Linked DNA regions of Homo sapiens: region 1 is linked to region 2. The links come from fine-mapping of genetic effects on gene expression. A gene starts in region 2. The other region holds a variant in brackets. All regions are shown on one strand. Distances are from middle to middle.

Region 1 (5,201 bases), 89 kb after region 2:
AGGGTTTTCATTTAATTAACATTGCCAGAAATGCCAATAAAACCAGGATCCAGCATTATCTCTGACTCAGGATTTTTGCAACAAAATGACAATGGCATTGATTCATTAATTGATTTTTAAAATTAATCGCCTGCCCAGTATCTTTACTGTTTTTTCTCTTTATTATGTTGATACTACTCCATCACCACAGCTAAGTCTTTTATTGCTTCTCTAAGAGACAAGGTCAATAGCAATCAACATTGGAGTCTCAAAAGTGAAGTCTAAGGTCATTAGTAATGCTAAGTGGTGTCGTGGTGAAATATTAAGCAATGAAACTTTTAGAAAATTATTTGGTTCTAGGCCGGGCGCGGTGGTTCATGCCTGTAATCCTAGCACTTTGGGAGGCCAAGGAGGACAGATCACGAGGTCAGGAGATCGAGACCATCCTGGCTAACATGGCGAAACCCCGTCTCTACTAAAAATATAAAAAAAATGAGCCAGGCGTGGTGGTGGGCACCTGTAGTCCCAGCTACTCGGGAGGCTGAGGCAGGAGAATGGCGTGAACCCGCGAGGCAGAGCTTGCAGGAGCCGAGATCGCGCCACTGCACTCCAGCCTGGGCCACAGAGTGAGACTCTGTCTCAAAAAAAAAGAAAATTTTGTGGTTCTAGAAGTAGAAAGCTTGTATCCCTCTATACATAGGAGATTCATTTGGACTCAAATAATAGGAGAAAGATTTTCACTTAAAAACAGAAAAGATGCTCTGGGCAGTGCTCTTCATGAATAAAACACAAGGTATTGCATTGGCATTTTATAAGAGGCAGTCATGGATGAACCAATCGCCTTTTCGTGTGGTGGGCTCCACTCTTCATTAATCAAACACACGGTATTGCATTAGCGTTTTATAAGAGACAGTCACGGATGGACCAATCGCCTTTTCGTGTGGTGGGCTCCATGGAAGCAGTTTTGTTGTATTCACGACAATTTTAGAAATCACAACTAGGGTCCTGAAGAAGGAAATGAAATGGTTCCAGTCTAGCCTGGAGAAGTAGCAAGTGAACAAAGATCAGCGGATGCAGGTCAGTTTTCACCGCCTTGCCTTCCATCTTGGAAGCTTCCCTACTTTCCTCCTGGTTGCTAGGCTGAGGACTCAAATTCTCATCCTCTTTCCCTCTCCCCAGTGGACTTGGATTTGCTTCCCAGCTTCCCCGGGGGCCTGATGACCCTCACACCTCTCCAGCACTGTGTTGTTTGCAGTGGCCTGGGTGCCATGCCAAGGCTGGGCCAGCACTCTTCCTCCCCTCCCGCCGGCAGAATGTCTTCTCCTCTAAGCCACCCTGTGGGCAGGGTGCAGGATCCAGGCAGTACTCTCATGACACACCGCCACAGGGCATTCTGTGTCCCTCTGGTATATTCAAACTTATTTTTGACCTTGACAGTGAAAAGGAAAGGAGATGAGATGAAGCTCGGTGTTCAGGGAGCACCCAATTCCTCAGTAGCCTTTGGCCATTCATTTATTAGTTCATTTTTTTTTTAATTCACCAGTTATCCACAATATTATCTGTTACAGAAAATTGGTTTTAAGCAGATAGACAAAATTCTTACTTTGGGACATCTGCTATGACATAGACAAAGAACAGTGATGGGATTTTGCTGTGAGCAAACTCTTAATTAAAAGTGTCAGTGTAGGTATCTCCCGTGGGGTTAGAGGACATTAAAGTAGTTCATAGAACTTGATGCCTGCCTTGTAACGCCTAAGCAGCAGGAATAGGCCCTGGAGAAAACAGAAACAGTCCCTGCTAGTTCAGCCGGATGGTCTTCTCTGAGCTGTGCATCCAGCCCCTGGTGTCTGGGGCTTCAGATTCCATTTCTGTTCTCCACGAGTGGCCCCTTGTCCTACTTCTGTTGGCCTCAGGTTGGCAGGTGTTTATTAAAATATGACCACATAATGCACAAGCCATTGTAGTCACAAAAGGAAAGTATTTTATTTGTATTTACTTGGTTTTCCCCATGAGTTACAGAGATCCTCTCTGTAACTTTTAAGATATATGAATTATTTCAAATTATAATTATATATATAGTCAATTTACGATGTTTCTGCAAGGTACCAAACAAGCTGGAGTTTAGGTTGTGGTAACATAGACCTGGTTGTAAATATAAATTTTGGACACAAAAAGTAACATTTCAAATTTTCATTTCTGGGAAGGCTTAATGAGAAATCCTTATTGGCTGCTTACACCACACTCTGTGAGGGTACTTTTAGGGGAATTTATTACTTGGTTACCCTAAATTGACAGCCATATTTTGGAGAAAAATGTGTCTTCTCCGATGAGCAATTTAAGGAAAGAAAATCAAACGTGAAGAGGAAAGGGACTTGAAAGTCCACAGACACTTTGAATTGACAAATGAGATTGTTCAGGGGCCTTTTTTCTTCATATCTTCAGGGAACCTGGCAGCTTTTCCCCAAGACAAAGCCAATGTGAGAAGCATCTGGGAGTTTTAACTCAGAACTGAGATTCGCCGTTCAGAGTACATGGAGATTCCATCCATAAGGTCGTATAATTTCCGTTCAAGGCAAGGCATTTGTTTCTCGTTTGTTCATCTTCAGGATTTGTCTTTATTGATCTTTGAAGGAGGGGTATCCACGGCGTTGCAAAAAAGAGGTCCATAAATACAAACTCGCATTTGCTGTTTGTAAATAGAATGAAAAGTAAAAGACAGGCCTTAAAAAAAGTTGTAGTATACCCAAACGCAAATTTACACCTTGATTTACACTTAAGAATACATTTCACAAATTGGTAAATATTGTAGGCACAGATTGCATATGAACTTGACAAGCCGTCTGTATACTTGGGATGGACGAAAATGCTCCTAAACATCCTTCAGTGCCGCCTTCTGCATCGGAAGCCTGTGCAGCATTCTTGCCACATGACTTTGTCACTGCTGTCCAAATGTGTGTCACATACTCTGTGCACCTGCAGCTGACAAATGCGCCTGTGCCAGATGGCCTGGCTCCCTGTCCTGCTGTCCATCAGCAGAATGGACTGAGTCTGTGGGATCTTACAATTCTGAGCCAGAAA[C/T]ACCACTGGAAATTATTCCTCTCCAGTGCTTTTGTATGAATGGAGGGGAAATGGAAGTGTCTCTTTGCTAATATCAATACTGTAATTTAAAAATGTTCAGTCATTTCTCTGTTACAATAGAAATGTTTTAAATGAATTCCAAATAGCAGGCATCCAGTGTCTATCAGGCACGCCACATTCTATGCCAGGTTCAGACACAGATGCAGCAAGGTGTAGACCAGGTCACTGCGTCTAGGCTGCTGTGCTCCTCAGAGACAAGAGGCTGTGCAGAAAGGTGGTGGGTGTGGGGGCAGAGGCCAGGTCATGGGCAAGGGGGCTTGAAGCATGTTTTTAATGCAGTCTTTCTATTTTTGCTTGTGATGTATAAAAATCTCACATAAATATGTACTTGAAAAAGAGAGGAATATTTGAATAGACTTTGTTGATAATTGTGGATATTCTTTGGTACTACACCAAAACTTGACAAGTGATAGTTTCTTAAAGGTTAGTTACAATGTGGAATCAGAACCCATATCAATGAACTTTTTATTCCCTGTTACATTAAAATCTATTGTTATATTCTGTACTTTGAATGCATTTTTACCCATGCAGCATTTTACAACATGATGCATTGGTCATTTGGAAAATATTGGTTCATTGAGTTATGCAAATGTTCAATGAGTTATGCAAATGTATGACACATTTAATTATACAATACTTAAAAAATCACATGCATTAATATTTTCATCAACATCTTTAGAAAAGACTTTTAGTATTGTGACACTGTCAAACACATGTGCATGTTTTGCAAATTTGAAGTTTTTTATTATTATTTTTAAATTTATTTATTATTATTATACTTTAAGTTTTAGGGTACATGTGCACAATGTGCAGGTTAGTTACATATGTATACATGTGCCATGCTGGTGCGCTGCACCCATTAACTCGTCATCTAGCATTAGGTATATCTCCCAATGCTATCCCTCCCCGCTCCCCCCACCCCACAACAGTCCCCAGAGTATGATGTTCCCCTTCCTGTGTCCATGTGTTCTCATTGCTCAATTCCCACCTATGAGTGAGAATATGTGGTGTTTGGTTTTTTGTTCTTGTGATAGTTTACTGAGAATGATGATTTCCAATTTCATCCATGTCCCTACAAAGGACATGAACTCATCCTTTTTTATGGCTGCATAGTGTTGCATGGTGTATATGTGCCACATTTTCTTAATCCAGTCTATCACTTTGGACATTTGGGTTGGTTCCAAGTCTTTGCTATTGTGAATAATGCCTCAATAAACATACGTGTGCATGTGTCTTTATAGCAGCATGATTTATAGTCCTTTGGGTATATACCCAGTAATGGGATGGCTGGGTCAAATGGTATTTCTAGTTCTAGATCCCTGAGGAATCGCCACACTGACTTCCACAATGGTTGAACTAGTTTGCAGTCCCACCAACAGTGTAAAAGTGTTCCTATTTCTCCACATCCTGTCCAGCACCTGTTGTTTTCTGACTTTTTAATGATTGCCATTCTAACTGGTGTGAGATGGTATCTCATTATGGTTTTGATTTGCATTTCTCTGATGGCCAGTGATGGTGAGCATTTTTTCATGTGTTTTTTGGCTGCATAAATGTCTTCTTTTGAGAAGTGTCTGTTTATGTCCTTCGCCCACTTTTTGATGGGGTTGTTTGTTTTTTTCTTGTAAATTTGTTTTGAGTTCATTGTAGATTCTGGATATTAGCCCTTTGTCAGATGAGGAGGTTGCGAAAATTTTCTCCCATTTTGTAGGTTGCCTGTTCACTCTGATGATAGTTTCTTTTGCTGTGCAGAAGGCTCTTTAGTTTAATTAGATCCCATTTGTCAATTTTGTCTTTTGTTGCCATTGCTTTTGGTGTTTTAGACATGAAGTCCTTGCCCATGCCTATGTCCTGAATGGTAATGCCTAGGTTTTCTTCTAGGGTTTTTATGGTTTTAGGTCTAATGTTTAAGTCTTTAATCCATCTTGAATTGATTTTTGTATAAGGTGTGAGGAAGGGATCCAGTTTCAGCTTTCTACATATGACTAGCCAGTTTTCCCAGCACCATTTATTAAATAGGGAATCCTTTCCCCATTGCTTGTTTTTCTCAGGTTTGTCAAAGATCAGATAGTTGTAGATATGCGGCG
Region 2 (5,201 bases):
CTGAGTCCTCTGAAAAAGAAATGTCTATTTCATGAGACAATCTGAGCCTCACAAACCGGTTTGTTCCTTCCCTCACATACTTCATACCTTTGCTTTTGCTCAGGAAGAGCAGGGACTTGTTTTTTGCTGGGTTTTTGATCTTATTAAAAAAGCATGATATCCTATACGCCAAACTGAGTGCAAATGCGGGCAGAAAATCACGCTGTGTTTTGCTCCAACAGGCAATGCTCCTGACAGCTGTAAAGTGGATGGGTGCATCCTGACAACTCAGGAAGAAGAAGCCGTGATCAGGCAAAAGTGGATTCTCCCGGCCCACAAGTGGAAACCACTGCTTCCAGTGACCAAGGTTCGTGTGGCATGTTATTCGGATCCAGCACTCAGACTGTGCTATTTCCCTAAGATTCTCTTTTGAAGGATTAGGATACGCTCCAAAGTTTCTGCTCAGTTTAATGGTAAAACGAATGAGGTTTAAAACCCCTATCTGCAAACTTTAAGAAGAAAGGCTCTATTTCTCTCCACTTTTGTATTTCCAAATTTTATTAGAACAAAATTGTTAAATGTTCAGAATACATACGTGGAAACATGTCTCTGCATCATGTTTAACTTTGTAGAAGGGGCGACTAGCACATTTAAAGCTCTAATGGCGTGTCCACCTGCAGGATGGATGCTCTGAGATATTCCACAAGTGTCTTCTTTGATTTAGAAAGAGGGTCAGGCTAGAGGTGAGAGCTGCTCCCATGTAAAGATAGGAAATAATCTCCGGGAGAGACCAAGATGGTCTCTTCCTTCATTTTCTTATCAATTTGCTTATGTATAATCAACTATTAGAAACAACTGATGGGCATTTAGGTTGCCCATCAATTGTTTATTGGGGCCTGCTTATTCATGTATTATTTGGGCATCCTATCCCTACTAGCAGATTTTCATGGAAAGCCCAATTATCATCAATTAATAACTTATTTTAAAGCCCCTTCGGTTAAGTCTAAGCCAAAGGTTTGCCCGGGCCGTGGGCTCATTCGGCCACACATGTCCTGTTAACAGACTAGGACCTCTGCATCTGCTTGCTTTTCAGTTGTCTCCCAACCAAAGTCATCTGTTCGATAGCCTGACCCTAGAGCTCCAAGATGTCATCACTCACGCCAGGCTCACCATCGTCCCCGACGGGGGAGTGAGCCGCCTTCGGCTCCGGGGCTTCCCCAGCTCCATCTGCCTCCTGAGGCCCCGGGAGAAGCCCATGTTGAAGTTCTCGGTGAGCTTCAAAGCAAACCCTTAACACACACAAAGCCCCGGTGTCGGACACACAGCAGTAATTTCCCAGTCATAGTCTTCTTTTCAAATGTTTTGAACACCTGGTGATTTAATAAAGTGGTCGTCTCACAAATTGATCTCTGTATTTAATGTTGCTATGAGGCATTTAGTAGCTTACATACTGGCTATGGCTGTGACTGGTGGTCTCTACGGAACTACTTTTTTTGAACATTATAAGATATTAATACTCATAATATCAATATCTGTACCTTCGGTGTGGACTTCCAGCCGTAACATGTAGCCTACTGACTGTCTAGAATCACTCAAGGGGACTGGCCTATCTTTACCCAGAGTAGGAACGATTCTTCCAAAGACCCCCTCTCCCTTTGAATCATTCCCCAATGAGGATGCGTTCTGAATGGCACGCGCCTGACACCGCACACCAGCGGCTATAGCGCGGTTCCTCACGGCCTCCCAGTGGCTCTGCACACCTCCTCCTCTGGTGGAAAAGCTCAAATTCCCCACTCTGGGCCAGGAGTCCTGGAAGACACTGGGGCTGAACCGGTCAAATTCAACCTAAGATCAAAGAAACAGAGGCTCAAAAAATGTGAAGCAGATCCCAGCACCCATCCAATGTTGATTGTCAAGATGGTCCTGGTCCCTCCCTAACCCTCCTCTCTACCGCTTCTACAGAGGAAGGCGGCGAGTGTAGGGGGAGGAGGCACGGTGGGCGTCCCGGGGCGCTCAGCACAATCATGCTAGCCGCCTCCTCCTCCTCTTTTCCTGAGCTCTGCCGCCACGCCCCTCACCTGCCCGGGCTCCCCGTTGCCCCCTCACCTGTCTCCGCCCTGTGCCGCGCCTCACCTGCTTGGGCTCCCCATTACCCAATCACCTGTCCCTGCCCCGTGCCGCCTGCTCACCTGCCCGGGTTCCCCGTCGCCCCGTCTCCTGCCCCGGCCCCGAGCCCCTCGCCCTGGCGGCCAGGCGGTCACAATCGCCCAGGGTCGCGTCAACACGCAGCCTCCGCCCGCCTGGCAGCCCCGTCCCGTCCCCGTCCAGCCCCCGTCCCGTCCCCGTCCCGTCCCCGTCCTGCGCCAGCGGCTGGAGCGGACCTCCCGTCGGCGGTGCCCGGGCCTGGGCGCGGCTCTGCAGGCGTCGCTGCCCGCGCTGCCGCAGCCTCTCGGCCCCGGCGAGCGAGGAGCGGGGCGCGGCTATGGGAACCCGCGGGCCCTCCGCGCCGGTGGACACCACGCCCGCCAAGACCATCGTGGTGTACCGCAACGGGGACCCGTTCTACGTGGGCAAGAAGTTCGTGCTGTCGCGGCGCCGCGCGGCCACCTTCGAGGCGCTGCTGGAGCAGCTCACGGAGCAGGTGGACGTCCCGTTCGGCGTGCGCCGCCTCTTCACGCCCACGCGTGGGCACCGGGTGCTGGGGCTGGACGCGCTGCAGGCGGGCGGCAAGTACGTGGCGGCGGGCCGCGAGCGCTTCAAGGAGCTCGAGTAAGTGCGCCCGCGCCCCCCACGCGCCCTGCGCCCCTCCCCGCCCTCTTGGGTCTGAGCGTGGTCAGGGCCGTGCCCCCCAGGTGTCCTCCCCAGGCTTCCCTCCCGGCTCGGGCGCCCATCTTTCGGCGTGGATCCAGCGCAGCCGGCGTCGGGCCGCCCCAGGCCACGTGGTTTCCTGGGGGCGAAGCCGAGGCAGCCCCGCCCCCAGGGTCCCTTCCTATGGGGCAGGGCGGGCCCTGGCCGGCAGCGATTCAGGACCGCCCCAGAGACGGCCAGGAGGGCGTGGGGGAGGGGCGTGGGGCAGAAACAGGGGTGTGGAGGAGGGCGTGGGGGAGGGGTGTGGAGAGGGGCGTGGGGGGCGTGGGGGAGGGGTGTGGAGAGGGGCGTGGGGGAGGGGTGTGGAGAGGGGCATGGGGGAGGGGTGTGGAGAGGGGCGTGGGGGGCGTGGGGAGGAGTGTAGGGGAGGGGGAGGGGGGAGGGGCGTGGGGGAGGGGCATGGGGCAGAAACGGGTGTGGAGGAGGGCATGGGGGAGGGGTGTGGAGAGGGGCGTGGGGGGCGTGGGGGAGGGGTGTGGAGAGGGGCGTGGGGGAGGGGTGTGGAGAGGGGCATGGGGGAGGGGTGTGGAGAGGGGCGTGGGGGGCGTGGGGAGGAGTGTAGGGGAGGGGGAGGGGGGAGGGGCGTGGGGGGGAGGGGCGTGGGGGGCAGGGCCTGGGAATGGGGCGGGTTGGGCAGTTCCCATTTGAAATCGCTCAGGGTGACCCCTCTCACTCTGTGTCCATCACTTGGTCCTGCGTGCATTTTCAAGCTTGCCTTTAATTAAACTATTGCCCTCCCACGGTTTGTGTCTGTAATCCCATTATTGCAGCCTGTGTCTGCTTTCTGTGATCTCAGCTGCTTTTCTCTCCTGATTCTCTGTTTCCTTGTAGGTTTACTTATTTTTTGACTGTGAACTACTCCTTTTGTATAGCTTTGTGTGGGGACATTCTTCAGGGCTGAGATAAAAGTGAGATTCCCCAGAGAGAATTTCCATTTTCTTCTTTCAAATGCTCTCCGTTCAAAAATGCTCTGAATTAAATCAGCAGCTTGAGTTTTGTTTGTTGTTTTTTGAAAAAGTAGTAGGATTTAGTATGAGGGCTGGTGTATGGTTCCAAATTCTTAGTGGCATTTGCAAAGATGTGAATTTACCATTCAGTTGTTTCTGAAGAAAAGTCGTAAGTCACAGGCATCACAGTTGCTAAGAGGTAGAATCTGGATTAGCATATTTCAGATTGAAATTTATTACTATGATAATCCTGTTATGTATTAGAATTCATGGACAAAATTATATTCCTTTATAGCCATGTGATTTGTGATTATTTTTTCCAAGCTAGTCAGATGGTGTGAATATCTAGAACTGACATCCTACCCAGGATCCAGTGTTCAGTGCTGATTTACAATTAAAGAATATATCTCTACAAAAACTGCCTTTAAAGTCCCTTTCGATACATATATAATGAAAAGTATTTAATTTTATCCCAAGACATTTTCTTGTAAAATTGGCCTGTGTTTTACATGTTAGCAAATGAGGAAGGAAACGTATCAAGCACCTGCCACGAAGCCTGGAGTGTGCCTGGGAGATGTTACTCTTTCCCCTTGCTGTGGGGCTGGATATTTTCTAACCAGACCGTGTTGTACCTCCAGTTTTGTAGAGAGAGTCTCGAGTCTCATGGTTTATTTAAAATGTTTTGGACATGTAGCAAAAATATTGAGAAAAAATTGAGATGTTTTTCTTCCCAGTGCTCTTACTGTTTATTTTACTTTTTGGGAGGAAAGAAATGTCACCCACTGCAGAGGGAGGGGAGTTGGGGTCCGTGTGGCAGACAGCCTGGGTTATTTTGCATTATCTATTATCCATGCATCTTCACTGCTGTAAAATAGATGAGCCATGTCTGCATGTGAAGTTCAACATAGAGAGCACGTGGGGTTCCTTTTCTTCAGTTTTTTTTAGGTCAGTGAGTCTGAAATTGGAATTCAGACTTTGGTGAACAAAGCTCTGAAAAATGTGGCTGGATTTTCACTGGTATTAGTAAAGTAAACTAGCTCTTGGAAATTTATATTCTGTAATTGCTAAGCCATTGAGCAGTTCAATTAATTTTCACTGGAAAATAATATTCTAATTGTGTCACCAGCAAATGAACTTTGAAGTGAAGCCTGTTGATATATTAGTGATCCGGGAGCTCCCCTCATAATAGTGGTTTCAAGATGGTGCATTAAAAAGACAAACACCAACAAATCTATCCAATATCCAGCCATTACTCAGACATTTCCTGCATTTTCTGGAAGAAAATAATTTGAGACCCAAAGGACATAATTTTTTTCTTTATAAAACAAAATATTATAAGATAATAATTACTTTTCAAAACAATGACGTGTCATATAAAGCCTAGAATTAATATTTCTTTTGTGGAGA

Which allele goes with the higher level. Alleles are on the strand shown, and positions count from the first base shown. SD is a standard deviation of normalised expression in the study named.
For the expression in caudate of the gene that starts at base 2,285 in region 2, allele T in region 1 goes with a higher level than allele C (moderate effect, 0.65 SD a copy in GTEx).

The links. PIP is the estimated chance that this variant, and not a neighbour inherited with it, causes the effect. A credible set is the group of variants that fine-mapping cannot tell apart.
Region 1: its variant is the best candidate, but not a certain one, in a credible set for the expression of DCDC2C in caudate (GTEx, PIP 0.54).

What each region holds. Positions count from the first base shown.
Region 1 is chr2:3,790,489-3,795,689 of GRCh38, forward strand. All of the region lies in intron 10 of DCDC2C (doublecortin domain containing 2C), which reads left to right. Among named protein-coding and RNA genes, the nearest start is that of DCDC2C, 90 kb to the left of the region's middle. The variant C/T (reference allele first, on the strand shown) is at 3,058.
Region 2 is chr2:3,701,291-3,706,491 of GRCh38, forward strand. DCDC2C (doublecortin domain containing 2C) reads left to right here and starts at 2,285. Exons shown (of 11, transcript NM_001287444.2): 1 at 2,285-2,748. The coding sequence starts at 2,462. ALLC (allantoicase) reads left to right here. Exons shown (of 12, transcript NM_018436.4): 11 at 222-346; 12 at 1,073-1,381. The coding sequence ends at 1,273. LOC105373393 (a long non-coding RNA gene) reads right to left here and starts at 2,210. Exons shown (of 3, transcript XR_922732.1): 1 at 2,169-2,210; 2 at 1,518-1,824; 3 at 1,270-1,349.